Regions from separate parts of the Homo sapiens genome. Here regions 1, 3 and 4 are each linked to region 2. The links come from fine-mapping of genetic effects on gene expression. A gene starts in region 2. Each other region holds a variant in brackets. All regions are shown on one strand. Distances are between the middles of the regions.

Region 1 (8,000 bases), 210 kb before region 2:
AGTAGAGACGGGGTTTCACCGTTTTAGCCGGGATGGTCTCGATCTCCTGACCTCGTGATCCGCCTTCCCTTAAGTAGTTTAATCCTTGTTAGTTTGACTTCAAATAAATTTGAAATGGAACACTTTTTAAGGAGATGTTTTTATAAGAAGTGAATGTGGTTTTTTTTTTTTACATTACTTATTTGTATAGTATTACTAGATGCCAAAAGAATTGCAAAGCAAATTCTTGAGAGCATAGAAACTATATAAAAATGTATTTAAGCTCTCTTGGGAATAGGTATGTGGATGAGCATTTTCTTATAAGAAGTGGTAGAGGAGGCTCATGCCTGTAATCCCAGCACTTCAGGAGGCTGAGGCGGGAGAATTGCTTGAAGTTAGGAGTTTGAGGATGCAGTGAGCTATGATGGCACCACTGCGCTTCAGCCTGGGTGATAGAGCAAGACCCTTATTTTAATTTTAATATGCAGTTAAGAAACATAGAACACGAGAATGTGCTACTGTGTTACAACCATGTACTACAGAGATATAAATTTCAAAAGGTCTTTTAAAAATCCAGTTTCTCTGGACTTTTTAGATATACAGTTTGAATTCCTAAATCATCACACATTCAAATATATGTCCACGTGAAGATCCGTTCCACTTGCATGTTTTGGCCACAACAAGGTCTCCAAAAGTGATTCTTTGGAAAGGATGATGTAGAGATTCTTATAGCACTCCACAGCAGGTTACCTAATTGCCTGAATGGGACCCACTTCCCAGGATACGGATGCAGGCTTGTGTTTGGGGGCCACATGGGTAATAGAAATGTACTGAGAGCTGGAGAGTGTGGGGGAAGTGAACAGGGAGGATGATGCTGAATTCATTCAAGGAGCATGCCTTAGTCCATTCAGGCTGTTATAAAACGTACCTAAACTGGGTGGCTTGTCAACAAACTGAAATTAATTTCTCACAGTTCTGGAGGCTGGAAAGTTCAAGATCAAGGCACTGGCAGATTTCATGTCTGGTGAGGGATTGTTTTCTAGTTATAGGTGGTGCCTTCTCACCATGTCCTCAAATGGTGGAAGGGGCAATGGGCTCTCTGGCCTCTTTTATAAAGGCACTAATTCCATTCATGAGGGTTCTGCTCCCATGACCTAATTACCTCCCAGAGTCTCCACTGCAATACTATCACCTTGGGGGTGAGGATTTCAACATATAAATTTAGGGGGAACATAAACATTGAAACCATAGCAGATTGCATTGCTGAAGGCAGCATTTTGTCATGGGTGAATCTAACTCACGAGGAAGCATTTGGCATCCTCCACCTCAGTAACTTTGCCCTTGATATTCCTTCTGCCTAGAACACTCTTTCTCTGTTATCTGCAGGCTTGCCCACTTCCTTCCTTCAGATTTTTGCTGAAATACCCCCTTTTCATGCAAGCTTGCTTTGGGCCATCCCTACCCCCCTTGATTTTTTACTGCTTACCTTGCTTTGTTCTTCATAACATTGAACATCACCTGACACCTTCTAAATTTGGGGCTTACTTATTGTCTTTGCAATAATAGAAACTTTATGAGAATAGCAGTTATATTTATGCGCTGGTTTTCCCAGTGCCTGGCACACAGAAAACACTCAATAAATATTGGTGAATGAATGAGTGCATAAAGAGAGGAAGGCAGGCAGGCTTGCTACACATGACATGTTCTGTCACTTGAGATTATACATAACAGTGCTTTCTTCCAATCATGGGAATAGGTTGTTTGTGCTATTGTATATGTGTTAGACATAATTACTTTTAAGAGTTTTTTAGATTCTGTGCTGCTTTAGATGTCAGATTATTGAGTTTTGATAATGGTTGTTGAGCTCTTTGGGCATTTAGTGAGGTTTACTACTTCATATTTATACATACCTATATAAAACATAATGAATTTAGTCCTCAGCTCAAAACCTTGTATTAGCACCCTACTTCATTCAGAGGAATTTCGGATAAAAGTCCAGTGGCCCATGGGATCTGGGATGTGTTCCTCTTAGCCTGTTCCCCTCAGGCTGCCTCCTGCTCTCATCCTCATCCCCCTTTCACCAGCAGTACAGGTCTCCTGGCTATTCTCTTCTGCCTGCAATATTTCCCCCAGATATTGATGCTCTGGAATAGCTCCTTCCCTGCCTTTGATCAAATTCTTCTTTCTAGTTGAAGCTTTTTAATACCACAGCCTGACTCCCCTCCCCTATCCTAGTAGTTCCAGTCTTTCTTATCCTGTCCTATTTTACTTCTTTTCATAATATTTTCCAACGTCCAACATGTTGTAGAATTCATTCGTTATATGTGTTGTTCATCTCCCTCAGATAGCAGGCAAGCCCCATGAGAGCAGAGATTTTCCTCTCTCTTTTTTTTTTCTTACTGCAGTGCCAAGAAGGATGTTTGGTACATTATTCTCAACATCTTTAAAAATATGAGGTAATTGTGAGACAGTAGGTGGGAAGGGATCCCCCGAGAAACTCCAGCCAGCCAGTGCACTGGGGTGGAACCACAGAAGTTCATGCTGTTTGCAGTGGGGAGGAGCCTGGCCCCTCTTCTTCCTGGATGGAACCTGGGATTCAATCTGCAGGGTGGGAAGCACTCTAGAAGGGACGCTGGCCTTGTGGAGAGTCCCTGTTTCCCCCTTTTCTTCACTTTCACTCAATAAAACCTGTTTTACTCACCATTCAAATAGTCTGTGAGGCAAAATTTTCATGGCTGTGTAACAAGGACCCCACCTTTAGCTGAACTAAGGAAAAGTCCTGCAACAATTGAACTTAACACTAATTTGTGCTTTATTTCTGTTCACTCAGAAAATATTTCTTCAGGGTTTAATATATGTTAGAGACTACTTTACATGTCTTTTTCCTTTCCAGACATCATTATCATACTAGATAACCTTATATAATTTCACTAAATGGTTTCTAAGGTATAAAACTGACAACTCATTCCCTTTGGCTTCTCCATGGCTCTGAGACATTAGTTAATGCACGTATCACCTGGTTTGCTTGTTAAATACAGATATTCTGCAAAAACAAGACCCCCAAAATAGATGAATATGTTTCATCAAAATTAAAAAATTTTATGCTTCAAAAAACACCATCCAAAAAATGAAAAGACAATATATAGAATGGGATAAAATACCTGCAAATCATATAAACTGTTAAGTATCTAGTATCCACAATACATAAAGAACTGTTATAACTCAACAATAAAAGACTAATAATGCAATTTAAAAGTGAGCAAAGGATTCAAAGACATCGCTCCAAAGATGATATACAAATGGCCAATAAGGACATGATTAGTCATTAGGGAAATACAAATCAAAACTGCCATTAAGTACCTTTCACACTCAATAGGATGGCTGTAATAAAAAAGATGAATAATAGGCCAGGCGTGGTGGCTCACACCTGTAATCCCAGCACTTTGGGAGGCCGAGGCAGGCGGATCATGAGGTCAGGAGATCGAGACCATGGTGAAACCCTGTCTCTACTAAAAATACAAAAAATTAGCCGGGTGTGGTGGCGGGCACCTGTAGTCCCAGCTACTCAGAGAGGCTGAGGCAGGAGAATGGCATGAACCCGGGAGGCGGAGCTTGCAGTGAGCCGAGATCGCACCACTGCACTCCAACCTGGGTGACAGAGCGAGACTCTGTCTCAAAAAAAAAAAAAAAAAAAAAAAAGATGAATAATAGAACAGTGTTGGTGAGCATGTGGAAGAATTGGAACCCTCATACATAGCTGGCAGTAATGTAATATAGAAAACAGTTTGGTAGGTCATCAAAAGGTTAAAACATAGGGTTACCATATGACCTAGCAGTTCCACTCCTAACTGTGGACCCAGAAGAACTGATACATGTCCATGCAAAAACTTGTACATGAATATTATTAGCAGAATTATTTATAATAGCCAAAAAGTAGAAACAACCCAAATATCCATCAGCTGATGAGTGGACAAACAAAATATTGTAAATACATACTGTGGAATTGTATTCAGTCCTAAAAAGAAATACTCATATATCCTACAACATAGATGAACCTAGAAACATTGTGCTAAGTTAAAAAGTCCATACACAAAAGGTCACCTATGATATGATTCATTTATATCATATATCCAGAATAAGCAAGTTAGTTCCATAGAGATAGTAAATAGATTAGTGTTGGCCAGGGCTGGTGGTAATGAGAAGTAGCTTCT[A/C]TTGGGTACCAGGTTTCTTTCTGGGGTGATGATAAAGTTCTGGAGGGAGATAGTTGTGATGGTTGCACAACTTTGTGAATATTCTGATTCTGTATTCTTTTAAAGAATGAATTTTATGGTCCATGAATTATATCTCAATTTTAAAAGTCTGCAATCAAGACTTTGAGGTAAATAAATTCAAAGCACAAATTACAATATAAATATACCAGAAATTATATCCTTTGCAACAATTTAGATTTATAATAGAAAGTTTTAAGTGTCAACTTTTTAAAATGTGAGAGGTGGTGATAGAATAATGGTTCCTTGTTGGGGAGGGAGGAAAGCAGGGACCAACAGTAGTGAGCATGAGGGAGCTTACTAAGGTGCTGGAAATTTTATATCTTGATCTTGGTGGTGGTTACATGGATGTATAACTGTGTGCCAAAATTCTTTGAGCTGTACACTTAAGATTGTTGTACCTGTATTAGTCCATTTTCATGCTGCTGATAAAGACATACCCGAGACTGGGCAATTTACAAAAGAAAGAGGTTTATTGGACTTACAGTTCCACATGTCTAGTGATGCCTCACAATCATGGTGGAAGGTGAAAGGCATCTCTCACATGGTGGCAGACAGGAGAAGAGAGATTGTGCAGGGAAACTCCCCTTTTTAAAACCATCAGGTCTCGTGAGACTTATTCACTATCATAAGAACAGCACGGGAAAGACCCACCCCATGATTCAATTGCCTCCCACCAGGTTCCTCCCACAACACGTGGGAATTCAAGATGAGATTTAGGTGGGAACACAGCCAAACCATATCTGTACCTTAAATAAGGAAAAAGAAAAAACAAAAAGAAATGGAAAGATATTCCCAGGAATCATCCTCTGTGTTTTTAAGTCAACAGATCCACTGTGGGGCCCAGGAATTTGCATTTTGAATAAGTACCTCAGATGATTTTAATGCAGATGTGTTGACTGTCTTTGAGAAATGCTGCTATAGGTTCTTGCTAAACTGCCAGCTAGATAATAATATACTTGTTTCATGCTTAGGCATTGATCCTGATACATGAAGTTGACTTAATTTAGGAATATTGTCTGAGATCTTAAGTACCTCAATTCAAAGATTGGCCATTGGCATGTATTGGGAAATTAGATTGTCTCACAGAGAAATAACTTTTGAACTGGTTGGAATAAGAAGGAAGTTTAAATAATACCATTTGCTTATGCAGACACTATTAGTGAAAAAAAAAAAGGATAACACTATGAAATCATCAATTTGATAACAATACACTAAAACCACGATTCCTGAACACCATTAACCTTAATGCTAGGGCAATTTGCAGTAATTATCTATTTGAATTCTACAGTGTTTTCACATATTTTGTCATGTTACTTTTTCCCCAAATCTATGAGATTTGCGAGGTAGGTAATACTACTTCTATTTTATAGGTGAAGAAGTTGATGCAGACATTTTCAGTGATTTACTCAAAATGGTAGAGCAGAGTAAGGATCCAACGTTCCACTGACGAAATATGCATTATTTATAGCATATATGTATTAGTTGGCCATTAACAAAATAATACAGACTAAGTGGCTTAAACAACAGAAATTTATTTTCTCACGCTGGCTTGCTAAAGCCACCTTGTCTCTGTGTCCTCACATGGCCCTTCCTCTGTGCATATAAGGGCTGCCCAACAGAAACAAGAACCAGAGAGAGAGAGGGAGAGAGCGCTTTAATGCCTCTTCCTCTCCTTATAAGGACACTATCCTATAAGATTAGGGCCCTACCCTTATGACTTAATTTAACCTTAATTGCTTCCTTAAAGGCCCTATCCCCAAATCCAGTCACATTGAGAGTTATGGCTTCAACATAAGAATTTTGGGGGGACACAATTCAGTCCAAAATAGACTGTACCCCTGGGACACACTTCTTTAAGAAAACAGTTGCTACATGTAGCAAGCCTGATGTTTCTTGCAGTCCCATAACATGTGCATATAACCGGAGATTTATTTTAGTAGATTGCTCTCTGTAACGACTTAAAACAAAAATAATTAACAGGTATCCCAAACAACTCTCCCTCTACCCAAGACATTTCCTGTTCTAGAAAATGTGCTTTTTGAAAAACAAAAACAAAAGCAAAAACTATTGATTTGTCAATAACTTTCAAAATGTTATCTATCTTAGAAAAAGGAAACATCACTGGAAAGGTGTTGGGTACCCCCTGGGTACTGGTGCCCAGCTCTGCTATCCACATCTGAGCAGCCAGCAAAGGCAGTCACTAACTTCTCAAGGCCTTAATTCTCTTAGCATCTCTACATCTGCTTCAGCTCCCACCCCCAAAATTACCTTTCATTGATTGATAACTGACTATAACCTTATTATTCTAAATATAGAGTTAAAATTAACATTTAAAATAACATTATTGTGAATCAGTCCTGATTATTTGGATATACTTTTAATAAAACCTGCAGAAATTTTCTAATATTTTTATTACCTGAGATTAGCACAGATATAATAACACTTTCTTAAAAATCAGAAGAAAGTTTCTAAAGCTGCTTTTTAATTATTATACAGGTCCTTCGAGTGTATTATGACCGCCTTCTGGACAATACAGACAGAAGCTGGCTCATCAACTACATTCAAGAAATTTTGAGAAACTACATGTATGAAGATTTTCATGAGCTTTTTCAGCGTTTGGATTTTGATAATGATGGCATGGTGGAAGCAGATGACTTACGCAGCTTAATGTTTTGTGATTTCCATGATCCCAAGAGGGAGGATACCAACTACAGAGAAATCGCAGATGTGGATAATCTTCGAATGATAGTAGAAATTCACCTAGAAGAATACAACAATATAAGCAAAAAACCCATGAACCTTGTCTTGTTTCGATTTGCCATAGAGCACATCAGCAGAATTTCCAGGATCCTGAAGCAGCCTCGCAGCCATGCTCTCCTAGTAGGGGTTGGAGGGAGTGGAAGGCAGTCTGTCACCAGATTAGCTGCCCACATGGCTGATTATTCAGTTTTCCAAGTTGAAATCTCTAAGGGGTATGATACTACTGAATGGCATGAAGATTTAAAAGTGATCTTAAGGAAATGTGCGGAAGGTGAGATGCAGGGTGTCTTCCTGTTTACAGATACTCAAATTAAAGAAGAGTCTTTTCTGGAAGATGTCAGTAATCTGCTAAATGCTGGGGAGATTCCAAATCTCTTTGCATTAGATGAGAAGCAAGAGATATGTGATAAGATGCGTCAGTTAGATCGCCAGCGGGATAAAACCAAGCAAACAGATGGCAGCCCCATAGCCCTTTTCAACATGTTTATTGATCATTGCCGCAGCCAACTGCATGTGGTCCTTGCCATGAGTCCCATTGGAGATGCATTTCGGAATCGTCTTAGAAAGTTCCCTGCTCTTGTTAACTGCTGTACCATTGACTGGTTTCAGGTATTGTCATGTACATTTTAGATAGACTTCTAGAAATGTTGAATTTCCACTATCATCATGACTTATTTTATAGATTCCCAACCTGTAGTTTACCCCAAAATATTGTTTAGCAGAATCTTCTGATCAGTTATATCTTATGAAATTATAATTCAAGAAATTATAATAGAAAAGTATTTATTAAGAATATATGTGATCACTAACTTCAATATATTATAGGAAGTGTTATGATAAAATTGTGTATCAGAGTCCTGACAGGAAGCACAGAGCAACCTTGAACCCTTCACCGAAGAAAGCATAATGAAGGAACTGTTCACAGAGGGGTAGGCAGGGTTAAGGGAACCAAGAGGGGATGTTGGAACACTCAGGAAGTGGTAGGTGGAG
Region 2 (8,146 bases):
TCAAACGCTAGGGGGCAGCATCAAACTGTTGTGGGTTAGGCTGGGCAGCCTTGCAAACTTTAAGCTTTAGGGTATTTTTAATGAGAATTACACTTACATAAAAGATGAATTATAAAACTTCCGTTATAAAGGAAAAAACTAGTTGTTTTGATTCCCTACATTTCTCTTCCATTTCCCATTGTGTACTTTCTTTTGCAACTATGACTGGTATCACTTTAAAATGCACTAGTAATAATGTCCTTCTGATACTAAACTCATGGCATTTCCAATACTGAGGTAAGCACTATATAAACACAAGCTGACATTTTTAGCCTAACCATAATGGTTAAGTTTTGATTCACTCAATTAGCATTTTAAACTTAATTAAAGAGCTTGACAAGCTCTGCATATTCATGTGTCATAAGCAGTATGTGACAAAAAAAACTGTGCAGTATGTACCCCCTCACGAAATTTAGTTTGGCAGGGAAAACAAGATGCACATGTTATTATAAATTAGAAAATGGAAGAGAAGTAGAAATAAATCCATGAGTATTATATATAAGTAACAGAACAAAAACAACAGGATAATGTATCCCCCCCAAAGGCCCAGTAGAGACCATCAAAGCTCATTCTGGGGGTAGTCAAGGAGGGAGTGGAGGGAGAAAAAGAACGCAGACCTTCAACCACTAATGAAAGAACTGAAACATCTGTATGTAGAAAAAAGGTAAAATCAACTCACTATCATCTTCAGCCTTTTGGTTATCTCATTTAATGGTCACAGTTAAGTCCGTGAGTAGGGTTTTTGTACTTGAAGTTCAAATAGAAGATTAAGATAAGCAACTTCCTCAAGGTAAGCAAACTAATTAATAGATCAAGGTTTTGAACTTTTAAAATTTCACTCCAAAGCCCTAAATTTTTTCCAGTATTGGTCAACACTGAGGGTAGAAGGGTTGGGTGAACAGAATATTAACAAGGTAAATTTCTCTAATCAGAAGGAAATGATCATCCCAGATGCTGAATTTTCCTTGCTATAATACTACATCCTATCTTCTCCAAAAATCACTTTTGAAAAAGGCACACCCCCTAGATTAGTACTTGCATACGACACTTGAGGCCTACTCAAAGTACTTCAAATCAGGTGCTCAAAAAAAGGGAAGGACCGTGTTAGCTTTTAAGCAGTTAGAATTTAAATTGGTAACAGTAAGAACTAGTATAGGTTATCATGCAATCTATTATTGATGTCATTTCCTATGAGGTCTTCCCCAACCACTTTTTTTAAAGTAGCACCAAAGTCATTCTTGCACAGGGGTTCTTATCCAGGCGTCTATGTACGGAACGCAGAATGTTTGTAAATATGGACAGGTAAAAAAAGAAAAAGATTTATCTTAACCTCTGACATTTACTTATCTCTTCAGTTACGAATGCAGGCAAAAATTACAGCGATGTGAAATACCTGATAGCAATTTTAGATTAAATTTAAGCCAAATTCTTTAAAGATCATTTACAGTCCTCACTAATGCTTTACTAAAATATAGATGTCATATTTAATATCTTCATTATTTCATAACTGGTTTCTGTTGCAATTCTATGTATTTCATACATTTAAAACCATCATTCTGTGGTTCATCACATAAAAAAGTTAAAAATCCATACCAGCACATCATTGTTTTATTTTCTTCACAGCACTTATCACTGATATTATATGTTTCCAGTAAGGAGCCACTGGAGTAACCAGTGTCTGCAGAATGTGCGTTGTCTGGCATGGATCCAAGATCTAGAAAAAGTAACTGACTCATATTAAGGTACTCAAATATTTGTACAATAGAGTCCTAATACAAAACAATACACAGGAGTCTTGACTTGAGGCTTTCAATTGCATACTAAGTTAGAAGGAACTAAGTTCTACATCTCCAGCTTTTCCATTACTTGCTTTTTCTTAATTATGTACAATTTAGATACACATCCAAAAAGAAAACAAATACAAACCTATTCTAGTTTTGCTCCAAGAATGACTCAGTTCCAATGTAAAATTAGAGGACTTAACAGCAAAAGGCATAAATAAAAGTTTCTTTTAAAAAACAGTATAACCTACCATACTTTTTGTTTTTTTCTAACATGTGTTTTGTGTCACTGTTACTTAGAATAGGTACTCGAGTGAACGACCCTTCCAACGGAGGGCTTCAGGTTCTGCAGTGATATTTCTTCCTCGTGCCAGATCCTTAGTACAGCCCATGTGGACAGGCTCCCACGTGAACATTTCTTTACAGAAGCCACAGGAAGACCTTGAACGTCATGTTGCTCGCGCCCTGGCAAGGCCCCCGCCCTTCTTAGCTGGGGCGTTCGAGGGACCCCAGGAGAGGCAAGGAGTTCAGCAGATTCCCAGACCCGGAGAGGCGGTGCGCGAAGGTTCCTCTACGCGATCCCCCTGCCGCGCCCCACATCGCTCTCCACCTAAGGGCTTTCCGGAACAAAGCCGTGCGGCCGCGCCACCTCCGGCCCACCCGGCCTGTCCCACCGACCCGGCCCCACCCTCACCCTCAGCTCCAGGGACCCCCAGCAGGCCGAGATCTTCACACCCCCGCGCTCCGCCTCGGCTTTTCGGTTGGTCCGGGAGAAAACTAGTAGGAGCAGAGGCGCCGCCGTCCGTTAGCCTCGGTCCGGAACAGCGGTGCCGAGGCTCCATCCCGGGGTCCCCTCGCCCCATTACAGACCAGAGAGAAGGACTGGAGAAGAAAAAACCGGGGCGCTGGTCGCCAAGCCCCCGAAGACCTGCCTACAGATCCCCAAAGCCTCGCCCGCCCGCGCCTGCGACGCCATCCGCGGCCGGCGCGCAGCCCCCTAACCGCCGCCACCCGCCCAGCGGTCACTCCCCCACCCCGGGCGCGGCCCGCGAGGCTCCGCCAACCTCCACAGGAAGGTGAGGGGGGCGCGAGGCTCCGCACGCGAAGTGGATGCCGCCGGCTCCCGATCCCGCGGCCCGCAGCAGCCCAGACCGCACACGAGGAGCCGCGGCGCCCAACACTCTGCCCACCACGCGCTCTGCTTCGGCTGGCCGCCGCCGACTGCAGCAGCTGCGGGAACCCCAGCGCCCGCATCCCCGAGGGAACCAGCCCCGACTCCCCGGTTCTGTTCTCCCTTTCTACCCCCACGCCGTCCCGGGACTCGCAGTCTCCGCCGCGCACGGGGCCGGTTCTGGGGGAGGGAATGTAAACAAATCGGGGTTTTATAGTTACCTCACACTCGAGTGCCGTGTGCATCTCCTCTCCGCTCGGTACCAAACCCCGGCTGCACCAAATCGTGTATTCACCAAAGCAGACTGCGCTAACTGCGTCGCAGAAACCGGCGCGTCTGACACCCTGCTACGCTTGCGGCGTACAAGGTCCACTCAGCTCCCTGCGCAGCCGCACCCCGTCCGCCTATGGGTGCTACGCTATGGGCGTACACGCGCCACCTAGCTATTCACTTCGGATAACGCCAGTTGCGTAAAGGAGTCGCACTACTCACGGATTCCACATGGATCGTCCGAGGAATAGGAAATTCAAGTCTACGCAAACTGCGGAGTTCCGTGGCTCCGCGCTAGTTTTGTTCCAAGAAAGAACGCCGCGGGGGAGTTGGGGCGGCTTCTTAACGCATGCGTGGAGCGCCCTTTATCATTCGCCTTTTCTCCTGGCTTTCGAACGTCGGTTGCTGAGGCCTTGGGCAAGGCGAATGAGTAATGGAAGCTCTAAACCCAAACGCTTTAGCCAAAAAGCTTCAGAGTGATCAACTGGAATGTTCATCTGTATACGAGTTAAACATCTACGTTAAGTTAACCCCGCCCCCTTTGTTAAAGTAACCTTTTCAGTCTCTTAGGGCAACAGCGAACTTTATTTAGTGCTAAGTGCGAGGTGTTTTGCCTAGCTCCCCTTCCCACCCATTTAATTCTAAAGCACACTTACTGCGGGTCTTCCAAACCTAAAAGAAAAAGTTGAGTCCTGAGAACATGTCACACATGTAGAGAAATTCTCGAGGCTTTTGGCAACTTTCCAAGGTCTTCACTCCTCTACTCCTCAACTGATCGACTATTTCTTAACACTCTATGACAAAAAAATCCCGATCCAGCCAAGCAGTTCCATGGACTTGTGCCTACACCGTGCTCATTCTTGCCCTTTGCTCACGCCATACATCCCATCTAAATTGTCTCCTCCCCTCTTAAGCAACCACCAACCCACATTTTCTTAAAAGGTGACTCTGGACGTCTTATTTTTGCTTCATTACTCTGCTTCCTGGCTCTTACTTAATCCACATGTTGAGGCGTATCTGCATTCCGCCTGGGGTGCCTGTGTTTCTATATCCAACCAGAATCTACTTAACACAGCGAGTTCTGGGGGTGCCTTACTGGTGTCTAGTAGAGAAAATAAAACCATGAACAGCAGTAATCGCAGGCTTGACTGTGTGTCAAGTACTCCACATATATATTAATTTAATCACCATAACACGGTGAGGTAGGAAACTGAGGCACACAAGACTTTAACTTGCCTGGTATCACAGAGCAGGTAGAGAAAAGAGTTGGGATTTCCAAACCCATTCAGTATGGACGGCTAGGTAGTCCCGCTAACCTGCATATTATACCTTCATGAAAGAAGGTTATTTTTTGTTTTGTATCTCTACAAAAAACATCCAAAACAACGAAAATGGTGCTTGATAAATGCCTACTGATTGCCATACGTAGTTCAGAACACTGAACTACTCATATGCCCTTTTCCTTGTTTGGAAAGCCAGAGCATGGACCTCACTCCTGCTTACAAAGGGAGAAGTCCTGAGGTGTGGAGAAAAGAGATTAAGCCTGAGTCCTAGTTTCAAGTCTCACCATTGCCACTAAATGTGAGACAATAGCTGTGGTCCTCAGATTCATTGATAAATTAAGGGGATCGTTTTAAATATATTCTAAGGTTCATCCTAGAACTAAAGTCCTTAGAGTTCATAAAATCATGATAGTACATCCTTTGTGTGCAAAGCATAAGAAGCTTCCAAATTAGCTTGATATTTTATGGCTCATACTTATTTTATTGAACACATTATTATCAACACCCTTAAAACATACATAACCTTTCTTTCAAATATCAATAAGATATAGCGCTTGCAGTCCTTACATTTTAGGGCACCTACACTGCTTTTTTAGTTATGGATATACAAGGCTAATGTTCAGCTGGTACACACAAGTACGGCTGAACCAACTAATCAAATACTGAAATACTTCAATGCAAGTTGGTTAACAGCTGCAACTCTGAGTGGTATCCCCCCATGCTTCTCACCCCTGTGCCAGTCCTTCCTCTCAAGATTCCCCAGACCTCCACATTTTAGGAACTAGTGGGTTAATACCTGGCTAAGATAGAGCCCTTTGGACCCAGCTCTTATTAGTCACTCCCATTCTACTTGGTTGGTGCCTATTCTTTACTAATTGTTACATATTTTAAATGTCATCCCTATAGAAAACTATGTGGTAAGCAACTTGAAAATAGAGACTGTGTCTCCTAACACTTTTTAAACTCACCCAAACATTTATTTACTTTCAAGTGTATACACACTGATTTGGGCAGATTTTCAAGCAAAATTATCAGATAGAATAAATGATTCTCTGCATACTAGCATATTACTTTTCCTACTGAGAAAAGGAATCTCAGAAAATGACTTGCAGGCTTACACAAAATCACCTGCTGAGTCAAATAATGGACACTACAGCAACAATATATGAATTTCATTTTATCTTTACCAGTTTTATATATAAGAAATATGTTAGGGTAAAGACTTTCTAATATGTTATAATCATAAAACTTTCTGAAAGTGTAAGACATTTTCTTTTTCCAGCCACCTCACTTGATTCATAAAGAAGCTCATCTCAACTATAAAAATAGTATAAATGATTTTCAGTACCTGGGGGAAAGAGAGGTACTGAATTATGTGTAAATGGTTTACCTTTCACTGTTTAGCTTATTCATGCTGCTTCAGCCACAATATTAGTTCACATATCTAAAATTTCAAATGTGACCAGTCTACCTTTGTGAGACATGATATAGTAAATCCAAGGGTCTTTTTGCCCCTCAGAGGATTTGAAAAGAACCAACTATTAATACAAAAGAGGAAATAAGAAACCTACTTCATACCCCAATCTTTAGCAGTGGCTGAAGGAAGTCCATGTCATAAACCTGGGTTTCCCTCTTACAGAGGAGAAAATAGTCATCATACACAACAAAATTAAGAGTCTTTAATGAAATCTATAAAGAACATGACTAATTCTGCCAGGCGTGGTGGCTCACGCCTGTAATCCCAGCACTTCGGGAGGCTGAGGTGGGCGGATCACCTGAGGTCCGGAGTTTGAGACCAGCCTGTCCCACACGGAGAAACCCCATCTCTACTAAAAATACAAAATTAGCCAGGCTTGGTGGCACATGCCTATTATCCCAGCTACTTGGGAAGGCTGAGGCAGGAGAATCGCTTGAACCTGGGAGGTGGAGGTTGCGGTGAGCCGAGATCATGCCATTGCACTCCAGCCTGGGCAACAAGAGCAAAACTCCGTCTCAAAAAAACAAAACAAACAAAAAAAAGAACACGACTAATTCTAAGAAATCAGGCCTTTCAAACTCACTTGTTCTTTCCGTGATTCAAGATTAGTAATAACCAATGATAAAGACCCCTTCCTAAATTCATCTCCAGTTTAAACTGTTACTTTTACATGGCCTAAAAGTTTACTTTAGACAAAGCTATGCCTAGAGAGGCTGTGAACCAAAAATAAAATTTTAAGCCTCCCAACTAACTGAATGGTCACTTCTTCTTTGCCAAGGGCATTCCAAAGTTAACCTGAAACACTAGTACCAGGCATGATGGGAATGGATGGTTAAACATGCCTCATTATATTCTCCTCACTTTAAAATTCAGGCACAGGCCGAGTGTGGTGGCTCACGCTTGTAATCCCAGCACTTATGGAGGCCAAGGCGGGTGGATCACCTGAGGTCAGGAGTTCGAGACCAGCTGGCCAACATGGCAAAATCCCATCTCTACTAAAAATAACAAAAATTAGCCAGGCATGGTGGCGGGCACCTGTAATCCCAGCTACTCGGGAGGCTAAGGCAGGGAGACTCGCTTGAACCCAGGAGGCAGAGGTTGCAGTGAGTTGAGATTGTGCCATTGCACTCCAGCCTGGGTGACAGAAGAAGACTCTGTCTCAAAAAAAAAAAAAAAAATTCAGGCACAGATGACCAGTATTAACATTAAAACAGACCTTAAGACTGATGAAAGAGACTTTTTGTAGCAATGATACCAACATGACAGATAGCAGGCTCTGAAAGAATTCTAAGTATTTTTCTCCAAAATATATTTCTTTGACATGTTTTGAAATGGCCTTGCAAAACTGTCTCTTGTGGGAAACATCTACATTCTATAGAGCAGCAGTCCCCAACTTTTTTTGGCACCAGAGACTGGTTTCCTGGAAGACAATTTTTCCACAGATGGGGGTGGGTGGGGATGGTTTTGGGATGAAACTGTTCCACCTCAGATTATCAGGCATTAGTTAGATTCTCATAAGGACTGCACAACCTAGATCCCTCACATACACAGTTCACAATAGGGTTTGTGCTCCTATGAGAATCTAATGCCACCATTGATCTGACAGGAGGTGGAACTCAGGCAGTAATGCTCACTGCCTGACACTCACCTCCTGCTGTGTGGCCCCGTTCCTAACAGGCCATGCACCCGAACCAGTCTAGTGGCTGGGGGACCCCTGCTGTAGAGAATCCCCTTCCCTTTCCAAGTCTCTTCCCTGATCCAGGAGAGAATTAACTGAGTCTGGCGTCTTTTAAAGTCTGGTAAGAAACACAATTTATTCTCTCTGAAGCCTGCTAGGTGGAGGCTTCATCGGCATAATAAGAACCTTGGTCTCCATAACCCCTTATCTTTTTTTTAAAATTTTCTTTCTTTTTTTTTTTTTTTTTAAGATGAGTCTCACTCTGTTGCCCAGGCTGGAGTGCAGTGGCGAGATCTCGGCTCACTGCAACCTCTGCCTCCCAGGCTCAGGCGATTCTCCTGCCTCAGCCTCCCGAGTAGCTGGGATTACAGGCACCTACCACCACGCCCAGCTAGTTTTTGTATTTTGGGGGAGAGACGGGTTTTCTCCATGTTGGCCAGGCTGTTT
Region 3 (8,146 bases), 68 kb before region 2:
TTGAAATAAGACTGTGATCTTACCAGAAAAAAAAAAGTAAATGTCCTATCTAGTCAAACAAACAAACATAAAAACCTAATTGCTAGTTCTGTAAATACACTGTCTAACATATTTGGGGTATTAAAGTAAAATCAAAATAAAACAAATTGTTAGCATTTACATTTAACTTTAAGCTAAATTTAGAAATAAGAGAAATTACATAAATCCTATGGAATATATACCACTTCCTTCCAGAAGACTGGCTTACCTAACAGGAATAGTATTTCTCTCCTGTTTGCCATAAAACAAACTCAAAAAATTAATTTTGCTAACAAAAATAAAACACTTCTACACCAATATTACAAAGTCTTTAAAGTAGTATAATAATTCTGTAATTATAACTCTACTACTAATGATTATTTAAATAGTAACATGATGGACAGACATTTTCAGCAACTCAACTGGTTTCCATAAAAGGAAACCTCCTACTTAAATGTCCTTCCTTAAGAGATTATTTAGGATATTATGTCTTTAAAATGAGTTATATTTTCAAAAATAGTTTGGCTTCAAACCACTTCCAAGGATTTCTTTCATTTGCAGGTTTAGTACCACAAAAAAATATAAAATATCTTACCATATCCACCAAGGCTACATAGAGGAACATGCCTGCAGTGACTGCAAAGATCCAAAGTGTGATGTTATTGGCATACTGACCAACAGCTGTGCCTATGAGCATGCCTATGTAAGCCATCATGGCAGAGAGGAGGTTGTATACAATTGCTTGCTTTACAGTCATGCCTGCTTTAAGAAGAACTGCAAAATCTCCTGCAATTAAGAAACAATGGGAATGTTTTAAAACCACAGGATTTAAAACACAAATCTGAAAGGAGAAAACAAATAAAATCAGCATTAAAAAGATACACACTTTTAATAACAGTATTTTATGTGATATATAAAATATTTTACTTATTAAACCATAATGCATGCAAAAACTTGGATGAATCTCAAAGGCATGATACTGAAAGATGTCCATCTGAAAGGTTATATATCTATTCTGAAACAGACAAAACTATAATAATGAAGAACAGTTAGTGGTTGCCAGGGGACAGAGATGGTGGAGAGCTGCGACTCTAAAGGAAGAGCACGGGGCAAGGGTTGTTGGGGGTGACAAAGCTACTCTGATCCTGATGGTGGCAGTGATTACAGAAATCTATATATATGTTAAAATTCAAAGAACTGTACTCACAAAAAAAGTCAATTCTACTGTACAACTTAAATGTCAAATTTTTACAAAAGAAAAAAACATGGTCACCGCTCTTCTTGTAACCAACAATCAAGACCTCCCTGCTCGAACTTCTACCCTTTCTTCAAAGGGAAATGGCCTAAGGAAGAACAGAGGTAACAGGTGCTTTAAGTATATTTTATGCTATGGTTACAGTTATTTTTTTTTCCCAGAAAGAAAAACTTTAATCCTGAAAATTCTAAAAATGTAGTAAGAATGAAGAGCTCTTCCTACCACTTTTCCGTGCTTCTACAATGATGCACATAAATATCTGGCTGAGGCTCCGAAGAGCATCGACAATGCTGAAAATAGAGCAAATGCCAGGTTCTTATTAAGCCATACTCCAAAGTCTGTTTCTAACTGTGCTGATGAAGAATGGTGACACTGGTGACTGTGAAATCATCCATGACCACAGAGCTGATGTAAGACAAAAACTCACAGGAGGGAAAATACTGAAATGCTTTTTCTAAGGATCCTCAATGGACTCTCCTCCCGCCACCCCCTCCCTCCAAATAAGAAGAAAGGCACTTTTCTTATTCATCTGTCTAAAGTTGGAACATTATCTGCAAGCTTGACTAGTGCCTATGAAAAATAATGAAGTTGGAACATTAGGGGGAAAAAAATATTGCTCAGAGAAGTGTCAGTGGAAGGACAAAATGATGCTAGAGATAATAATAGTATTGAAGCTAATGGGTCGAAAGCAATAGCTTGTTCCACCTTGAAGAGGTATGAAAGAAAAAAACCCATTAGCTTTACATACTATAATAATTTTGTTTCAGTTACTACATGAACAAACATCTAATCAATTATTGAACACTCAGCATATGCAAGGTGCGATACAGAATACTAACTGGGCTTGTTTCTTTCCCTTAAGGATCTTAACAGCTACGTATCTAAAAATACATGATCTATTATTCTTCTATACCTCTCATGGTTACAAGGTTCATAGTCTATAACAAGGAGAAGTTAACAATAAAGAAATTACTGCAAGGTTTATTTCTACCTTCCAACAAATTGCTACAAACTAAACACTGCAGCATTGTTTTGGAAAGTTAAGATAATGTACCTAAGGAGATTATCTACCAATGGTTTCTAAGTTGTAATTGTCCAGTTTTCACCTAATGCTATTCTCCTTACATCTTTTCTCCTCTGATCCTAAATACCTTAATTCTCCTGCTGAGACCCGGATTTAATATCAGCTTTTATCTCTTCTCTCTCCTGGAGTTTCGTTAATTTTCTCCAGTCTTTCTCAGCTTTTTCTCTGTGGAAAGAGCTCCCTAACTTCCCTAACAAATTTCCTCTCCTTGTTTTCAATAAATCACACACCAACTGTGCTAAAGAGGCAATTTCATTTAGCAGGTTATGTAAAACAAACTGAGACTACAGAAGTGTCTTTTAGATTACAAAATGCATTGCTTCCTTTTATAATTTAATAATGCGTTTAAAAATGAGCATTATTTAATACTCAATGAACAACGGTGTCATGGGTACAAAATACACCAACTTTGTTGCCATAGCAAGATGGTTTAAGTTCCTTCCTAAGTAACAACCAAACAGCATGAATTAACAAATCAAGATTCAAGGCGAACTATTTTCATTTAATACTTTTAAAAACTGTGGTATAATTACACAACTATTTCATTTTTTAAAAATGTAGACTTCTATGAATTTGGACAAACACATACACCCTATAACCATAAACACCATTAAACTCTAGAACTTTTTCATTACCCTTCCAAAATTTTTTTAGGCCACTTGCCCTTAGGCAACCAACAATCTGCTTTCTGTTCCTGTAATTTTGCCTTTACCAGAACATCATCTAAATGGAAGCACACAGTATGTAGTCTTTCAAGTTTAGATTTTGTTCACTTAGAATAATGCATGTAAGACTCATTCGTGTTACTGTGTATATCAGAAAATTATTTTATTGCTCAGTAATATTCCATAGATGAACCATAGTTTATTTATCTATATTCACCAGCAAAGAACATTTAAGTTGTTCACTGTTTTT[G/A]GCAATTATGAAGAAAGCCACTGCACACATTCATAAACAGGCTTTTATGTCAACATAAGTTTTCATTTCTCTTGGGCAGACACCTATTAAGTGGGGTCACTGGGCCACACAGTTAAGCATATTTCTAATTTTATAAGAAATTGCATCCCCACCAGCAATGTATAGGAGCTCTAGCTGTTCCACATCCTTGACAGCCCACAATTTGAAATCCAGCATCTGAAATCTCATCTGTATACTTTCTTCAGTGAAACATTTGTTCAAGTCTTTTTGTCTATTTTATTTTGTTGGGCTGTTTGTTTTACTATGATTGAAGTCTTTTGTCAGATATGTATTGTCCAAATATTTTGTCCCAGTTTGTGGCTTCCCTTTTTGTTAACTGTCTTTTGTGAAGAGTTTTTAATTTGTAAGAAGTGTATTTTATGACTGTTTTCCTTAATGGAGTATGCTTAGTGCTGTATCTAAGAATACTTTGCCTAACCCAAAGACACAGAGATATTCTATATTTTCTTCTATTTTTAAGAATCTCCATTTAGATTACCTACTTTGAGTTCATTGTTTTTTCTATAGTGAGATATGGGTCAAAGGTATTTTTCTTTCTTCCTTTTTTTTTAATTGCATGTAGATGTCCAATTGTTACAGCGCCATTTGTTGAAAATACTATCCCATCCTTTCAACATGGAATTTTCTTTGTACTTTTGTTGAAGATTAATTGCCATATATGTGAGGACTCTTTGCTTTGTTCCACTGCTTTATGTGTCTACTCTTTCACCAATTCCAACTGTTTTGATTACGGTGGCTTTATAGTAAATCTTAAATCAACTTTGCTGCCCTTTTGCAAAATTCTACTGGCTATTCAAGTTCCTTCCCCTTTCCATATAAAATTTTTAAAAAAGCTGTTCATCTCTGCAAAAAAGCCTGCTGGATTTTTTACTGAGAATGCACTGTGTCTATAGGAAAAAATTAACATCTTAACAATAGTCTTCTGGTCCCTGAACCTGGTATAGCTCTTCATTTAAGTCTCCTTTGGTTTCTTTTACTGATGATTTGTAGGTCTATGCATATTGTTAGATTTAAGCTAAATATTACATATTTTTGATGCTATTATAAGTAGATCCTTTTAAAAATTTTATTTTCAACTGTTGATTACTAGTATATAGCAATACAAATGATTTTTGTATACTTATCTTTGTATCAAGTGAATTATTTCATTTTAAAATCTATCTTGGTTGTAGTCTTATCTCAGGTTATAAATTCTCAAAGGTATCTGCATATTTTTCTCTTTTTCCTCATTTCCCTTCTCAGTGAGAACCTGTATAAACATTTTAAAACTAAGTCAAAGGAATCCTCACAGCAGGGATTTATAGTAAACATGCAAATCTATTCATCTTTTGATAAATCAATATTCTTTCCTTCCTGCTGACAAGGGATATCATTAGCACAATGAATGAGGTGTGCCTGCCAAAGCTGTTAAACTAATGAGATCCAATGCTACAGATGTTAACATCTGTTAACATCCACTACTGAGATTTTTTAAAACATGTATATATTTTAAGGTTCTTTATTCTTGTCTTAAATAATGGTTGTATACATGTTAAAATTCTACATAAATGTATACAATGAATGTTCAATTTCCTGTGGACAATTTAACACATTATGAAAATCTTATTTTAAATTTCTATGTAATCCTTAATTTGACAGAAAGGAAAAATGTACAACACTATAACCTCTCTTAATTGAGTCTTAATAATATGGCTACATATTTTTTTCTTTTTCAACTTTTATTTTAGAAGCATGGGGTACATGTGCAGGATTGTTACAGAGGTATATTATGTGATGCTGAGGTGTGGGGGTATGACTGGTCACCCTGGTATACTACACAATAGTACCCAGTACCCAATAGGTAAGTTTTCTAACCCTTGCCCCATGGCTGTATTTTTTTTTTTTAATCAAAATGTTATTTCCTTGAAGTTGAAACACATTACTCAACATCAAGAAGAATGTTTGGGAAATTGTGATAGACCAAGATGTCAAAATGGAAGGTGACCCACTCATATCCCAACATCCACAAGAATAATTCTGCATCCATCCACAGTCAAAAGCCTCTCTGTGGGAGTCTCAGAATTCCGGCAGGAGTTTGTGAAACCCTGGTGGAGTCCAAGACTCTGGGGCTGTTCTGAGAGTGCAGACGACACTCAGGTGGTTGATCTGTCCTGAGTTCAAACCTGGAAGCGGCTGTCTTCCTCCTGCCCTCTGGATGGTCCCCAACATTACATTACCTATAGATGGCCTCCTCCTACTACAGGCTTTTCTGTAAATTATTCTTCAAATGCTTATACAGTTCCTTATTGAAGGAAGGTGGAAAACAGTGAAGAGATAAGACAAAGTAGTATTGTAACTTAAATTCAGCTACATAAGTTCGGCAAACACAGAAAAGAGAGTAGTGACTTAGTAATTCAGGCAATTTAACCCATTACCACACCAGAGAGCAAACACAAAATGAGATGTGAGTTTGCTATTTCCTCAAATGCTTTCAATTTCTTCATGTCTCTTACAGTCAAATTCCCTGAACTATATGTTATTCTATGGTTCTAAGGATATGTCTTTACGTATCACATTCCTAAACACAACTACAAAAAACACCTGCAGAAACTGCAGAGAGAAAAAGGGGTAAGTGCTAAGAAGGTAACCATCATTAATCTCTAAAACAACTTGTTTTCAATTCTGTGTCTCAGTGAATATACCACGGGAAAAACAGCAATCTGTTCAGAAAGGGAACACTAGAACTTGGAATTACCAACTGAGGGTCAGTCTCCATGTATTGCAATGTAATTGGAAAACATGTTTTTCCTCCAAGGGTCTGAGGTCAGTATGGAAATCTCAGAATTGTTTTAAGAATTCATAATGAAAAATGTAACAGGGCAAAATAGGTTTTAGATCAAATAAATTATCCTGAAATGTGACATACTATACTACTTTGTCAACATCTTAACCTAGAAAGTGGGAAGTGGACTTCTCCCTGGCTCTATCTGCCCATGCTTCTAACTCAACCTATAGAGGAATGATTTTCCCTGTGCTTGGGAGTTCTGAGGAAGAAGCTTGTATGCCTTTCTCCACATCCTGTTCCTCTCCGAGTAAGAATAGATGATCTGATCAGAGTAGGGACACTGACCTGGTCCTATTGTACAAAAAGTGCCCTTTGCTGTGCCTTAAGGCAAAAACTAGGCTCCACAATCATATTTTTACTTCCTTTATTTATGGTCCCTAGACCACTTCCTAACTTGTTGATAGATACAAGGACCAGAGCCCTTTCTGTCACCTCCAGAAGAGGAAGCTGGGTCATTTCTTTACACTGTTTCTTCCCTAGTAGCCTATCCAGCTACAGTATGGTATAGTTTACATCAATTTAACATTAGGAAAAATGCACATTTTCTAAAAGCCCACTCCTTTCCCTCTAGCAAAATTCAGTATACTCTGGCTTGACATATCTTCTCATAGCAGTAGCAACATCTCAGCCTCTGATTTGTGGGATAAAACAGGTAGACATCTGAGGTCTGAATGTCTCACTAGGGGTTCCTGGTCCAAGCAGAGTTCTCCGCTCCAGTTTTTTACCAGAGCTCTGCATTGGGTATCAAGGGCTTCCCTAGCTATTAATGTATGTAATGCATTTGTTCTACATGTGGTTATCAGCCCTTGTGTGTCACTCCTTCAATGAGAAATTGCAGACAGAAAAAGGGTGGTAAGAAGGTAACCATCCTTAATCTCCAACTTGTTTTCAATTCTGTGTCTGAGTGAATCCTTCAAGGTTATGGCAATTCAGTAAAACCACACTTAAACTTGAAGTAGCCTGACACTCCATTTACCAGGTAGTGGGTAGATGAACAGGAAGGAAAGTTGGAGGTTTTTCTAGTATATTATGGAGGTGTATGCGTGATTATCCAAGTCTATTACTAAAAATAGTTTTTAAGTGAAAGATTAAATATGAGGCAACATGTTAACTCATATATAAAAACTGATAGCCTTGATTTGTGGAGTTAGGCTAACAGCAGTATGTGATAGACCAACAGCAGTATGTGATAGTTAGAGAAGAGCATAAGACGTCGTATCTGTGCATTAAAAAACTACAGTTTAAGAAATACGGCATCTAACAAGAAAATGGGTGAAGGACCCCGAGAAAGCAAACAATAAAACTAAGAGGAAACAGTAATCCAAGGCATGAGGTAAAAGACAGTAATAAAGTTGAAGATTCTTAACATGATAAACTAGGAATAGAAGTATTTGGGCCAGCCATGTAGGAGAATGGTATAAACAAGGAAACAGATTCAGGCACCCACACTACACATTTGGTGAATTGCATTTAGTTGAAATGAAAAACATGTAACAGGATGTACTGCAGGTAACACTAAAAAGCTAGGTAGAGAGAAGAAGTGAAGGTCATTGAAAGTGTGACTCATAGCTGGGCGTGGTGGCTCACACCTGTAATCCCAGCACTTTAGGAGGTTGAGGGAGGTGGATCACTTGAGCCCAGGAGTTCAAGACCAGCTTGGGCAACATGACAACACCCTATCTATCAAAAATACAAAAATTAGCTGGGCATGGTGGTGCACGCCTGTAGTCCCAGCTACTCAGGAGGCTGAGGTAGAAGGATCATTTGAACCCAGGAGGTCAAGGCTGCACTAAGCCGTGATCAAGCCACTGCACTCCAGCCTGGGCAACAGAGGGAGACCCTGTTACAGGGGGAAAAAAATATATAAAATCCAGCTCTATTTTATATGTCAGGAAAGCTACTGGAAGACTTTAATTACATAAGAACATCACATTTAAGCAGATATATCTGGCAATGATATACTACAACAGAATAAAACCAGAGATATAAA
Region 4 (8,146 bases), 21 kb before region 2:
CTCGGCCTCCCAAAGTGCTGGGATTACAGGTGTGAGCCACCGCGCCCGGATACTTAAAAATCTTTACACTGATTCTGATTCCTTAATGTATTCTGTTCATGAACATTACCTGATATTTCATAGGTAAACATATGGAAATAAGTTTAAATATGATTAATACTCCACTGTTACTTATCCTGTTTTTAAAATGCACCACAATTATGTGAGAATTACGAAGCAGCTATCGGACATCTTTTTATACTTACTTCATGATGATGGTCATCTTCATTTAGATCTTTTCTCAAAGAAATTATTGCATTATTTTTAACATGTGGTGCTTCTCTCTTTCTAGTATGTCGAAGTTCACCTTCATTATCAGGATCAAGATCTTGGTGTCCACGACCAGGATCATGACCATTACGTTCTGGAAGATGTACATGAGAATGACCTGGGTTATGTACACGATCAGGTTTGTGGACCCGATTATGCTCATACTGTTCACCCTGATCATGGTTAGGGGGAAAACCTGGTGTAATAACCTCAGAATTTTCATTACTTTTCCTCCCTTTTTTCTTCCTCTTTCCTTTCGGTAGTTTAACATCAGATTGTTCCTGGGTTTTATTGGTCTCTGTTGAAGGTTCATTGCTAGGCTCCCCACGCTCACTGGGAGTAATGGAATCATTATGAAAATGGTGAGTGTTGTTATGATCAAGATGATGATGCAAACGATGGTGATGACGTAGGCGGTGATTATGGTCATGCATATGTTTATCATCAGATTTTACAGACACTTCAACTGTCTCTTTCTCTGGATCACATTTATGGTTTCTTTTTGTGGATACACTGGTCACAGTTTGATTTTCTGAATTTAAATGATTATGGGAATGCTGGTGGTTATGTGAGTGAAAATGCTTTCCCTCTTGAACTGCCAAAATATCTAAATGAGAAACATGATCGTGGCCAAGATCCTCATGATTAATCTCAACTACTTTTCTCTCTCCAAGGCCCAAGTTTGTTAAAAGTTTCTCCAAACCAAAAAAGGATAATCTTCCATTTTCACCATAACGCTCAAAAAGTTTTTCAATATAGTATTTTTTTTCATTTTCAGCAGCTTGCTTTGAAAATTTGCTTGGCTCCAATTCTGTCATTCCACGATGCTGTCTGTGAAGCGCTTCAGGGCCATGGTCATGTTCTTCATGGCAATGGTTGCAATGATGAAAAATAAATGTCAGCAAACAAATGAGGCAAAATTTTGTGTGCATATGTACCTTCATTTCTATTTTTCCTAAAGAGATTTAAAGAGAGAGACAAGTATTAGTTTCTACCTAGACACATTCAAAACAATCTAATTCTCTGGAAGTTGCCAATCCACTAAAAAAAGTTTTACTCCATTTCCTTCATGATAAAATATGTTAAGAACCAGAGAAAAGTGAAACTGTCATTATTCACAAATGGTAGAATTAATTATGCAGCATGCCTTAAAGAATCTTTAAGAATAAGTTAGTTTAGTACAGTTACTGAATATAAGGACAGTAATAAATTATATTCCTATATATCAGCAATAATTAGAAAATAAAACTCAAAAATAGTAACATTTACAACAGTAGCAAATAGCTAGGAATGTATCTAACCAAAGACATACAAGAACTTTACATAGAAAAGAGAGAAATTATTGAGAGAAATATTATTGACAGAAAATTACTGAGAGAAATAAAAGACCTAAATAAACGGATGGCTATATCATGTTATGACTGGATAAGCTATGTATCCAATACAACCCCAGTCAAAATCTCAGAATTTTGTGAAAACTGATTAACTGTTTTTAATATTGATGTGGAAATAGAAAGGGCCAAGAACGGCTAAGATGTATTCCTTGAGGAACAAAATTGAAGCATTTACTCTATGAATTATCAAAGATGCTGTGGTATTTGGTGCAATAACAAACAGACTAAAGGAACAGAAGACAAAAGCTAAAAACCGGAAAGGATGGTCTTTTCCTTGGTGCTTGGTCAATTAGGTTTCCACACAAAAGAAAATAATAAATAAAATCTGACCCTTACCTCACACATCATTACAAAAATCAATTGCTAATAGCTCCTGAACATAAATCTGAAACAAGAAATGCTAAAATGATAAAGTGTCCAGAACTGTCCAATTCAATGGTAGCCACCACTAGTCACATACGGGTACTTAAATGAACTAAAATTAAATTTAAAATGCAGCCTCTCAGTCACCCTGACTATGTTTTAATTGCTCAACAGCCACATGTAGCAAATGGCTAGTATGTTGGACAACGTAGACGCAGAACATGTCCATCATTATAGAAAGTTCTATTGGACAAGCATACTTCAAGAATCTAGAAATATAATAAGAGCCAATTATGTAATTCTGAAGTTTTCCAGAATAGATGAAACTAATTTCATACTATTCTATTTAACCCATTATATCCAAAATATTATAATTTCAACATCTAATCAATATAAAAATTATTAAAATATTTTACATTCTTTTTAATACTATGTCTTTGAAATCTGTCATGTATTTTACACTTACAGCACATCCTAATTCAGTCTAACTGTATTTCAAGTGCTCAACAGACGTGTGGCTACTGGCTACTGTACTGGAAAGCGCAGATCTTGAAGATTTGGGAGACTAATTTTAAGACCTTCGAGATAGAACACAAAATTGATAATATATTACACTGAAATTAAGAATTTATGTTTCATCAAGAGACATCCAAAAAAAAAAAAAAAACCTAACTAAAAAGGCAGGCTGCAGACTGGGAGAAGACTACCACAATGTATACTCAAAAATATATAAGGAACTTCTATAAATCAATATGAAAATTACAATAAGACGACCCAATGAAAAAATGAGTAGGTAACTTGAACAAGCACTTCATAACAGCAGCCAAACTCCTAAAAAGCAAATGAAAATATGTTCAGCTCAGAAGTCTTCAGGAAACCAAATTAAAATCACAATTAGATACCACTATATACCCCATGAAAATAACTGAAATATAAAATACTGCCAATATCAAAAGTAGGCAAGAATATATAGAGTTAAATGGAACTTGTGTACTGACAGTAGTATTAGAGATTGTATCTTCTGAAAAACTGTTTGGCAAGATCTGCCAGAAGCTGAATGTAAGCCTATGTACTTACACAGCAATTTTAATCTGGGGTATATGCCCAACAGAAATCCATGTACATGAATACCAACATGAATATTCACGTAATCATTATTCATCACAGTCAAAACTGAAAAAAGGCTGGGTGTGGTGACTCACACCTGTAATTCCAGCACTTTGGGAGGCCAAGGCAGGCAGATCACCTGAGGTCAGGAGTTTAAGACAGGCCTAGCAAACATGGTAAAACCATTTTTACTAAAAGTACAAAAATTAGCCAGGCGTGGTGGCATGTGCCTGTAAGCCCAGCTACTTGGGAGGCTGACACAGGAGAATCACTCGAACCCAGGAGGCAGAGGTTGCAATGAGCCCTGATCGTGCCACTGCACTCCAGCATGGGCAACAGAGACAGACTCTGGTCAAAAAAAAAAAAAAAAAA[AT/T]CTGATAAAAGCCTAAATGTTAATCAACAACAAAATGATAAATGAAACAGAAAAATCTATCACACAGGAATAAAAATGAAATTACAGCTTCATGCATAGATGAATTTCACAAATATTGGGAAAAAAATGACAAACACCAAAGAAAGCAGTATAATTCTTATATAAAGGTAAAAAGGAATAAAACTAAACTTTGTGGATTTTTTTTTGTTTGTTTTTGAGACAGGATGTCACTGTGACACCCAGGCTAGAGTACAGTGGCGCAATCATAGCTCACTGGAGCCTTAAACTTCCAGGCACAAGAGATCTTCCCACCTTAGCCTTCCAAGTAGCTGTGTGTGCCACCACGCTCAGTTTTAATTTTCTTCTTTTTGGGGTCTTGCTCTATTGTCCAGGCTGGTCTCAAACTCCTAGCCTCAAGCACTCCTCCCAACTCAAATTCCCAAAGTGCTAAGATTGCAGGTGTGAGCTACCATACCTGGCCATGATTACTTTTTGAAAGAGAGATAGAGGGTAATAATTGGGAGAAGACCAGAATGGAGGGGACTGCAAAGTGTAATGGTCTTTCCTGATATCAGTAGTAGTTATGTAAATATGTTTACTTTGTGATAATTCATGGCACTTATGCTCTGTGTACTTTCTGAACACAGTCTATTTCAATACAAAGTTTTATAAAAATCAAATTTTCTTCACTGAAAACCAATCACAAAATGTAATTATAAACAACATTGTATGGTTTCTAGAATTAATTAGAACAAGACATATAAAACCACTAAAAGGAAAAACTTATTAAGATGTTATTGAAGGACAGCAAAGAACTGAAAAACCTGGAGAAACACATCATCTACATGAATAGATGGGATATACTGCATAAGGTACATAAAATCTTCCCAAGTGTATATACAAATTTAACTCAATGCCAGTTAAAATCCTGGTAGCTGTTTAGTTTTGGTGAGACTTCATAAGCACATTCAAAAACTCATAAAAGCAAAAACCCAAGGACAATCAAGACAATTCAGAAGATTAGCAAGGTATTAAAGACTTCTTTTTATAAAATTATACTAACGAAAATAACATAGAACTAGCACAGGGGTAGATAGGCCAGTGGAGTGGAACAGAGTTCTGAAAGAGCATCAATAATATTGACTGTGAAAATGTTTCTTCCTCACACTACACACAAAAGTCAATTCCAAGAACATTAAAAACCTATATGTGAAAAGCAAAATTATCAACAAGTTCTAGAAGAAAATGTAAGAGAATGTCTTTATGTCTTTGGGATAGGGAAATATTTTTTAGGCAAGACACAAAGCACATATCATGATGAAAATTTTTGATTAACTAAATTCTTTAAAAAATACTCTATAATAAAGGACACTATAAAAAAAAAAAAAGCTTATAGGCCAGGCGCTGTGGCAGGCGCCTATAATCCCAGCTACTCAGGAGGCCGAGGCAGGAGAATTGCTTGAACTCGGGAGGTGGAGGTTGCAGTGAGCCAAGATTGTGCCACCACACTTCAGCCTGCCAGCCTGGGAGACACAGCAAGACTCTGTCTCGGTGGCGGCAGGGGAGGGGGAAGCTTATAGCAAGCCATATACTAGAAGATATTTGCAATGTGTATATATAAACAATGTATATAAAACATCAGTATCCAGAGTATATAAAGCACATATAGTAATAAAAAAACTCCACTACTACATAGACAACTATGAAAAGAACATAAAACAGGTTGGTAAAACAGCAACATGATGACTAATAATCTAGGCAATTCAAATCTAGATAAGGCTCTAAGACAGTAACAGGCAAAAATTAGTATCTCACAATACTAGATGTTAAGTAAAGGTCTAATATAAAGAAACAAACTACCTTATGCGTCTGGTGGAAGTATATATTGGTACAGCCATTTTGGAAAGCAACTTGACATTTACTACAGCCAAATATGAACACACTCTACAGCCCCCAAGTTCCATTTTAATTACCCTTGCACTTAGGCACGCAAAGACACATTCAAGAATCCTTACTGGGGCCAGGCATGGTGGCTCACGCCTGTAATCCCAGCACTTTGGGAGGCCGAGGTGGGTGGATCATGAGGTCAGGAGATCGAGTACATCCTGGCTAACACGGTGAAACTCCATCTCTACTGAAGATTCAAAAAAATTAGCCAGGCATGGTGACGGGCGCCTGTAGTACGAGCTACTCGGGAGGCTGAGGAGAATGGCATGAACCCGGGAAGCGCAGCTTGCAGTGAGCTGAGATCACGCCACTGCACTCCAGCCTGGGCGACAGAGCGAGACTATGTCTCAAAAAAAGAGAATCCTTATTACAATATTGTAAATGTTTTTCTAATGTGAACTATTGCAATAACAGAACACTCAACCAAAGTGGGTAAAACAGAGGAAAACTTTCACATAAAAAGAAGTCAGGAGAAATGGGTGATTCTAGGACAGTACCAAAAATCCAAGCACGCTCAAATTTACCCTCAGAGTCCCAAGATAACCTTGCATAATCATATTCAAAACTGGAAGATTTATCTTTTTTAAAATACAATTTTTATTTTTTTTCCTCCTCAGAAATCTTGTTTGGATGGAAGGTTCATCTTCATGTCTCTCTTTTTATCCAGGGAGAAAAATATTTCCCTCAAGCCTCTCTTTACGTATCTTTGATCAGTCAGGTCTCTACCACATGCCCATGCTAAAGCCAATCACTGGTTTACAGTAGTGTATAGTAATGTCCCAGGCCTTCACATTCACTCACTGCCCACTCACTGACTCACTCACAGCTGCTTCCAGTCCTGCAAGCTCCATTCATATTAGTGCCCAACACTGGTGTACCATTTTTAAAATCTTTTATACTGAATTTTTACTGTACCTTTTCTATGTTTAAACATACAAATATTTACTATTGTATCACAACTGCCTACAGTATTCAGTATATCAACAGGTTTGTAGCCTAGAAGCAACTGGCTATACTCTATAGGTAGGTGTATAGCAGGCTACACCATCTAGGTTTGTCTAAGTATACTCTATGATGTTCACACAATGACAAAATCACCTAAGCCTGCACCTCAGAACATACTCAGCATTAAGCAATGCATATGACTGTATGTGGGAGAGGCAATACTCACAGAACATGGGGGAATAAGAGGCCTCAAGAAAAAAGGAGGTAAATAAAGAAAAGCAGGCCGGGTGCAGTGGTTCACACCTATAATCCCAGTACTTTGGGAGGCCGAGGCGGGTGGATCACCTGAGGTCAGGAGTTCAAGACCAGCCTGACCAACATGGTGAAACCCCATCTCTACTAAAACACAAAAATTAGCCAGGCCTGGTGGCGGGTGCCTGTAATCTCAGCTACTCGGGAAGGTGAGGCAGGAGAATCGCTTGGACTCAGGAGGCGGAGGTTGCAGTGAGCCGAGATCATGCCATTGCACTCCAGCCTGGGCAACGAGAACAAAACTCTGTCTCAAAAATAAAATAAAATAAGGAAAAGTGGTCAGCTGTGTAACCATTATGTTGCCTGCTACAACCTAAATGCTCATCATTAGAATAAATAAATATGGTATATTTATTTAAAGATTACACTGCAGTTATAAATGTGACTATGAAGGACTTTGTATTAACATGCAATAATCTCAGAAATATAATTTTTAAAATTGCAAAAAGATACATGCTGTATAATTTACAGACAATCTTAAAACATGCAGAATTACTTATTTGGGGGTATATATTCATGTAGCAAGAGAACATGGGATGATTACATTCTGGAGTCATTATCTTCTCAGAAAGGGAAGGAGGGAAATCAGCTGATAGAGGAAGTACACAGATTTAACTGCATTTGCAGTGTGTTATTTCTTTAAAAAAGGGAAAGGGATCTAATGCAATATGATAAAACATTTAATATTTGTTAAAGCAAGATAATGGGATTCAGGTGCTTGATTATTCTTCTGTGTACTTTTCTATAAATCTGAAAAGATACCACATAACCTGCATCAGTGGTTAATCAAACTGTGGTTGTGAGAGCAGCATAAGCTTGCTAGAAATCTGAAAGGCAAATTCCTGCATCCCACCCAGACCTACTATAACAGAAACATTAGGGATAGGACCCAGCAATGACTTATCCAGCCTTTCTAGTGAGTCTGATGCAAGCTACACAAAATTTGAGAGTGCCTATTTACACATATAAATTAGCAATGACTTATCCAGCCTTTCTAGTGAGTTTGATGCAAGCTAGACAACATTTGAGAGTGCCTATTTATACAAATAAATTACCAAACACTTCCATTTCTCTAAAATGATACTTTGGGCTGGGCACTGTGGCTCACGCCTGCAATTCCAACACTTTGGGAGGCAGAGGTTGGCGGATCTTGAGCGCAAGTTCAAGACCAGCCTGAGCAACATGGCAGAACCCCATCTCTACAAAAAAAATACAAAAAAAATTAGTTGGGCATGGTGGCGTGTCAGAAGCCAAGGTAGGAGGATCATCTGAGCTTGGGTGGTCAAGGCTGCAGTGAGCCCTGATCTTGCCACTGCACTCCAGCCTGGGCAATAAGAGACATTGTCTCAAAATAAATTAATAAATAATAGTTTAGTCAACTGAATGTTATGATCTA

Direction of the effects. Positions count from the first base shown, and alleles are read on the strand shown. Sizes are in standard deviations (SD) of each study's normalised expression. Not every link is listed here.
In carriers of allele AT in region 4, the expression in follicular helper T cells of the gene that starts at base 3,268 in region 2 tends to be higher than with T alone (large effect, 0.81 SD a copy in Schmiedel 2018).

The links. PIP is the estimated chance that this variant, and not a neighbour inherited with it, causes the effect. A credible set is the group of variants that fine-mapping cannot tell apart.
Region 1: its variant is the best candidate, but not a certain one, in a credible set for the expression of SLC39A10 in whole blood (INTERVAL, PIP 0.61).
Region 3: its variant is the best candidate, but not a certain one, in a credible set for the expression of SLC39A10 in lung (TOPMed, PIP 0.89).
Region 4: its variant is the best candidate, but not a certain one, in a credible set for the expression of SLC39A10 in follicular helper T cells (Schmiedel 2018, PIP 0.67).

The regions. Positions count from the first base shown.
Region 1 is chr2:195,863,768-195,871,767 of GRCh38, reverse strand. It overlaps DNAH7 (dynein axonemal heavy chain 7), which reads left to right. Exons shown (of 65, transcript NM_018897.3): 41 at 6,747-7,619. Among named protein-coding and RNA genes, the nearest start is that of DNAH7, 200 kb to the left of the region's middle. The variant A/C (reference allele first, on the strand shown) is at 4,191.
Region 2 is chr2:195,652,348-195,660,493 of GRCh38, reverse strand. It overlaps SLC39A10 (solute carrier family 39 member 10), which reads right to left and starts at 3,268. Exons shown (of 10, transcript NM_020342.3): 1 at 3,213-3,268. RefSeq lists silencers at 2,500-2,599, 2,800-2,919, 2,950-2,999.
Region 3 is chr2:195,720,817-195,728,962 of GRCh38, reverse strand. It overlaps SLC39A10 (solute carrier family 39 member 10), which reads right to left. Exons shown (of 10, transcript NM_020342.3): 9 at 614-804. Among named protein-coding and RNA genes, the nearest start is that of SLC39A10, 68 kb to the right of the region's middle. The variant G/A (reference allele first, on the strand shown) is at 3,273.
Region 4 is chr2:195,673,150-195,681,295 of GRCh38, reverse strand. It overlaps SLC39A10 (solute carrier family 39 member 10), which reads right to left. Exons shown (of 10, transcript NM_020342.3): 2 at 246-1,264. The coding sequence starts at 1,253. Among named protein-coding and RNA genes, the nearest start is that of SLC39A10, 20 kb to the right of the region's middle. The variant AT/T (reference allele first, on the strand shown) is at 3,546.